Linked DNA regions of Homo sapiens: region 1 is linked to region 2. Evidence: fine-mapped expression QTL. A gene starts in region 2. The other region holds a variant in brackets. All regions are shown on one strand. Distances are between the middles of the regions.

The links. PIP is the estimated chance that this variant, and not a neighbour inherited with it, causes the effect.
Region 1: its variant is fine-mapped to the expression of NOA1 in aorta (GTEx, PIP 0.97).

Annotation. Positions count from the first base shown.
Region 1 is chr4:56,852,127-56,855,034 of GRCh38, forward strand. No RefSeq gene overlaps it. Among named protein-coding and RNA genes, the nearest start is that of SPINK2, 32 kb to the left of the region's middle. The variant A/C (reference allele first, on the strand shown) is at 1,474.
Region 2 is chr4:56,976,204-56,979,111 of GRCh38, forward strand. NOA1 (nitric oxide associated 1) reads right to left here and starts at 1,403. Exons shown (of 7, transcript NM_032313.4): 1 at 239-1,403. The coding sequence starts at 1,382. It overlaps POLR2B (RNA polymerase II subunit B), which reads left to right and starts at 2,693. Exons shown (of 25, transcript NM_000938.3): 1 at 2,693-2,801. The coding sequence starts at 2,783. RefSeq lists enhancers at 636-695, 1,076-1,145 and a silencer at 896-975.

The DNA.
Region 1 (2,908 bases), 120 kb before region 2:
TGCTAATTCAGTGTTTATGGCAACTTTATAGAATATAACTACTGCAAGTAACAAGAATTTACAGATTAGTGTTTGTATCTAAAGCTATGACTTTTCTTCTGAGCTAGGCCTTAAATGTGTCTCAGAATTCTAATATGTAGACTGTGCCTACGTAAGCTATGATCTGTCAGCTCCAAACCCAGAATTACTTTCCCAGTACCTTGAATCCTATATGCCAGTGGATTTTTTTTTTTCAGACGGAATCTCGCTCTGTTGCCCAGGCCAACCTCTCTGCTTCAGCCTGCCAAGTAGCTGGGATTACAGGTGCCAGGCGCCTGCCACCACACCCAGCTAATTTTTTTTGTATTTTTAGTAGAGACAAAGTTTTACCATCTTGGCCAGGCTGGTCTTGAACTCCTGACCTTGTGAACCACCTGCCTTGGCCTCCCAAAGTGCTGGGATTACAGGTATGAGCCACCGCGCCCGGCCCATGCCAGTGGTTTTGAAACCTCCATGCTGGACTTTGAGATGGTGAGTCTAGAACTCTACAAACTACATTTATTCTTTGTCAGCCAGCTTCTGTTAGGGTCAGTTAGTAGGGGGCACTAGAGAAACATGTGAAGGAGGATGGGGGAGCAGGACCAGGCTCCTTCCTACTGCATGGTTCCTGTCAGAGTCTGTCATGGCATTGACATCTTATAAAAAACACAAGCCATCATAAGAATGCTTTTCGGCTGGGCACGGTGGCTCATGCCTGTAATCCCAGCACTTTGGAAGGCCGAGGCGGGCAGATCACTTGAGGTCAGGAGTTCAAGACTAGCTTGGTGAACATGGTGAAACCCGTCTCTACTAAAAATAGAAAAAAGTAGCTGGGTGTGGTGATGCGCACCTGTAATCCCAGCCACTTGGGAAGCTGAGGCAGGAGGATATCTTGAACCCAGGAGGCAGAGGTTGCAGTGAGCTGAGATAGTGTCATCCATTGCACTCCAGCCTGGCAATAGAGTGAGACTCCATCTCAAAAAAAAAAAAAAAAAAAAAAAGGACCAGGCACAGTGGCTCATGCCTGTACGCCTGTAATGCCAGCACTTTGGGAGGTTGACATGGGGAATTCAAGACCAGCCTGACCAACATGCCAACATGGCAAGACCCGGTCTCTACTAAAAATACAAAATTAGCTGAGCGTGGTGGTGCGTGCCTGTAATCCCAGCTACTCAGGAGGCTGAGGCAGGAGAATCGCTTGAACCTAGGAGGCAGAGGTTCTGGTGAGCAAAGATCGCGCCATTGCATTCCAGTTTGGGTAACAAGAGCGAAATTCTGTCTTAAAAATAATAATAATAAATAATAAATAACAATAATTATGGAATTGGCCAGGCACAGTGGCTTACGTTTGCAGTCCTACCACTTTAGAAGGCCAAGGCAGGAGGATCACTTGAGCCCAGGAGTTCGAGACCAGCTTGGGCAACATAGTGAGACCCCGTCTCTAAAAGAAAAGAA[A/C]AGAACAGAACAGAACAGAACAGAACTAAAAGGACTAAAATAATTATGGAGTTGTATCATACACCCTAATAGCTGGACATTTAGGTTCACTGCAGCCTCTGCCTCCCAGGTTCAAGCAATTCTCCTCCCTTAGCCTCCTGAGTACCTGGGATTACAGGCATGCGCCATCATGCCTGGCTAATTTTTGTATTTTTAGTAGAGATGGGGTTTCACCACGTTGGTCAGGCTAGTCTTGAACTCCTAACCTCAAGTGATCCACCCACCTTGGCCTCCCAAAGTGCTAGGATTATAGGCGTGAGCCACCACGCCTCGCCTATTTATTTTTATTTGTATAAAAGTAAGGAGTACAAGTGCAGTTTTGATACGTGGATATATTGCATAGTGGTGAAATCTGGGCTTTTAGTATAACTATCAACCAAATAGTGTGGGTTGATTGACCAACCTGGCCAATATAGTGTACATTGTACCCATTAAGTAATTTCTCAACATTTAGACATTTAATGCTGTCTTTATAATAACTGTGAATAGCAGAAAAATCAAGAGAAAATTCAAAACCAAACAGTAAAATGTACAAAAGATAAGCATTAAGAAATTTCTAGACACTTTCATGGTCTCAAAATATCTTTTGTTTTGTTTTGTTTTGTTTTGTTTTTTGTTTTTGAGACCGAGTCTCACTCTATTGCCCAGGCTGGAGTGCAGTAGTGCAATCTCGACTCACTGCAATCTCTGCCTTCTGGATTCAAGCAATTCTCATGCCTCAGCCTCCCAAGTAGCTGGAATTATAGGTGCCCACCATTATGCCCAGCTAATTTTTGAATTTTTGGTAGAGACGGGGTTTTGCCATGTTGGCCAGGCTGGTCTTGAACTCCTGATCTCAAATGATCTGCCCGCCTTGGCCTCCCAAAGTGCTAGGATTACAGGCTTGAGCCACTGCGCCTGGCCTGGTCTCAAAATATCTTGCCATTGATTGCTTATTAATTGCACACAGAAATAAAAAATAAAAATAAAATAAAACTAATTGTATGGCGCAAAATAGTGGAGAAACTGGACAACATCTTGTCTATGTATCCAAAATTAACATCGCCAGCTGGGTGTGGTGGCTCACATCTGTAATCCCAGCACTTTGGGAGCCAAGAGGCAGGTGGATCACTTGAGGCCAGGAGTTCAAGAACAGCCTGGCCAACATGGCAAAAACAGGCATGGTGGCTCATGCCTGTAATCCTAGCACTTTGGGAGGCCAAGGTAGGAGGAATGCTTGAGGCCAAGAGTTCAAGACCAACTTGGTCAATATAGTGAGACCCCATCTCTAATAATCTTAAAAAAAATTTTAATTAAAAATAAAAAATGAAGACATACATCATATTATTAAAGTAAAGAAACTATCTGTGGCTGGGTGCGGTGGCTCATGCCTGTAATCTCAGCAACTTTGGGAGGC
Region 2 (2,908 bases):
GGAACAGAGACGTGCTCCATAAACACTTCCATTGAAAATTACTACAACACATCCTCAATTTTCCCTAGCAGTAAGCTGACACAGAAGAGAGGTGTGACCAGAGTGGGGAGAGAATTTGTAAAGGGAAGGGTACAGGCAGCCCGCAGTGGACATTAAGGGAGGATGTACTCGGTGCCTCGGCCAGGACCAGACGTCCACCTTGCCAGGAAACGAAGAGGGCGAGCCTCCTAAAACTCACCTGGCCAAGGGGAGATGGTGGCTCTGTCGATGGCCTCGGAGCCCTTGGCAGTGCAGTAATCGGACTCCAGGAGCGTGTTAAAGAGAGTGGATTTGCCGGCGTTGGTGGCGCCCACTAAGTAGACGTCCCCACGGTAGCGCCAGGAGCGCTGAAGGGCAGAGATCAACTCTTCCACTCCATAGCCGGTCTTGGCGCTGATCAGCCGCACGTCCCTGACCACTGTGCGGGACCAGTTCGGCGGATTCGGATTCTCCCCGTCCTGTGGCTCGTCCTTGACGGGGCGCTGTGGCCCTTGGTGGCCAGGGGCCAGCAGGAGCCCGGCGCGGGCACAGTCCTCCCACAGTCGCTCCCGCAGCCTCTGCCGGTAGCCAGGAGCATCCTGGGGCAGGAGGTCCACTTTGTTTCCCAGCACGATCAGCTGCTTGGGGCCCACCAGCGCGGGCAAGTCGGGCAGCAGGGCGTCGGGCAGGTCCAGCAGGTCCACCATGTAGAGCACCAGGGAGGGGCCGGGCCGCCGCAACGCGGCGCTCACCAGCTCCAGGTACTGCTCGCGGCTCACCTGCAGGCGTAGAGCGCGCCGGTGGTGCGACAGCAGCCAGCAGCGCTGGCACACGGTCCGTGCCAGCCCGCCGTCTGCCTCCGCCGTGCGGAGGAACTTCTCTCGGGGCAGGTAGCCGGGCACTCCGGCGTCCTGGCAGTGCAGCTCTGCCCCACAGCCCGAGCAGTTCACGCCGCTGGGCGGCAATGCCGGGTCCGGGTGCCCCACGACCGGGTGCTCCCGGGACCTGGCCCGTAGGTTTTGCTGTCGCCGCTCCTCCCGCCGCTGCTGCCTCTGTCGCTCCTCCTCCTCCTGCTGTTGCTGGAGCTCCTGCAGCTGCTTTTCGCGGGTGGGTTGCGGCTCCGGATCCAGGATGTACTCCGGGAACAGAAAACGCTCCTGCATGTCACCACCTTCTCCAAAGCCCTCCGTGTCCACGGGGTCATAAGGAAGCTCGCGTCCCAGACTCGATGAGTGCTGGAAGGAGGAGGCGGCAGCGCACCTCCTCTCCAGGAGCGGCTCCCGGAGGCCATGGCGCGCTGCCGTGGGAGCGGATCCACGAAGGAAAAGGCTCAGCAGCCTGAACGGTAGGCGAGCGGGCAGCATGAGGAAGTAGCTCCAAAGGGGCGGAGCCACCAGCGCGCACGCGCACTAGGGTCCGAGGCGCGCATTTGACCCGAGACGAAAGCGCGTGGGTACTTGGGAGCTGTCCTGGTTGGTTTTGCGTCTAATCCCGTCAGTTCTCGCGATTTAAGCTCTGAGACTGAGAACCTACTTAAAGCTATGGCAAAGGCACTGGAGGATTGAGCTAGGTGGGCAGAAAAGAGCAGTGAGTGTTTTGGGTTTTTTCACTTTCAGGCTTAACGCCTCACTGCTAGCACAAGCCGCCCTTAATAAATCACACTTAAAAAGGAGCTTCCGGGGTCGGGCGCGGTGGCTCACGCCTGTAATCCCAGCAATTTGGGAGGCCGAGGCGGGCGGATCATGAGGTCAGGAGATCGAGACCATCCTGGCTTACACGGTGAAACCCCCATCTCTGCTAAAAATACAAAAAATTAGCCAGGCGTGGTGGCGGGCGCCTGTAGTCCCAGCTACTCGGGAGGCTGAGGCAGGAGAATGGCTTGAACGCGGGAGGCGGAGGTTGCAGTGAGCCGAGATCGCGCCACTGCACTCCAGCCTGGGCGACAGAGCGAGCCTGTCTCAAAAAAACAAAACAAAACAAAAACAGAAAGGAGCTTCCGGCCGGGCGCGTGGCTCACGCCTGTAATCCCAGCACTTTGGGAGGCCGAGGCGGGTGGATCACCTGAGGTCAGCAGTTCGAGACCAGCCTGGCCAACGTGGTGAAACCCCGTCTCTACTAAAAATACAAAAATTACCCGGGCGTGGTGACCCTTGCCTGTAATCCCAGCTATTTGGGAGGCCGAGGCAGGAGAATCGCTTGAACCCGGGAGACGGAGGTTGCAGTGAGCCGAGATCGCTCCACTGCACTCCAGCCTGGGCGACAGAGCGAGACTCCATTTCAAAAAATAATAAATAAATAAAAATAAAAAATAGCTTCGTGTTTTGGTCCTTATAAAGGCAAATAAATTGAGCATCCCAATGTTGCGGATTCACAGGACGAACACTTTTTAATAATAAGTATACCTGGTTTTGTTTTCAGGTGTCGTTATTTGTGCAACAACATTGAAAAACAAGCAGAAATAAAACATTGACGGAACGGATACGACCGCAGATTGCGGGAGCTGTCCTCTCAATCAGCCCGGCAGCGGCGGCCCACAATTTACGCGTGTGCAACCCTAACCCCGGCCCAAGCTTGACCTACAATTTGCGCAGGCGCAGATCCTAACTTTGGCGTCCCTGTGGGCGGCCTTTGGTGTGAGACGCGTGGTATTCTGGGAACGTCGGAGACGGAAGTTACTTCGTCTTTAGCTCCTGGCGCTGCTGGCTTCTGGGCGGTTTTTGTCTTTTGATTTCAAGAGTTAGGAGCTCGAGAACCGTTTGGCAATATGTACGACGCGGATGAGGGTAGGTGAACGCTCAAAACACACGCCGTGGCGGTCCATTTAAGCAGGAAAGCGTTGGGAACTGATTGGATTGAGGATTTGGGGCCTTCCCATGCGCCGGCTGCACAG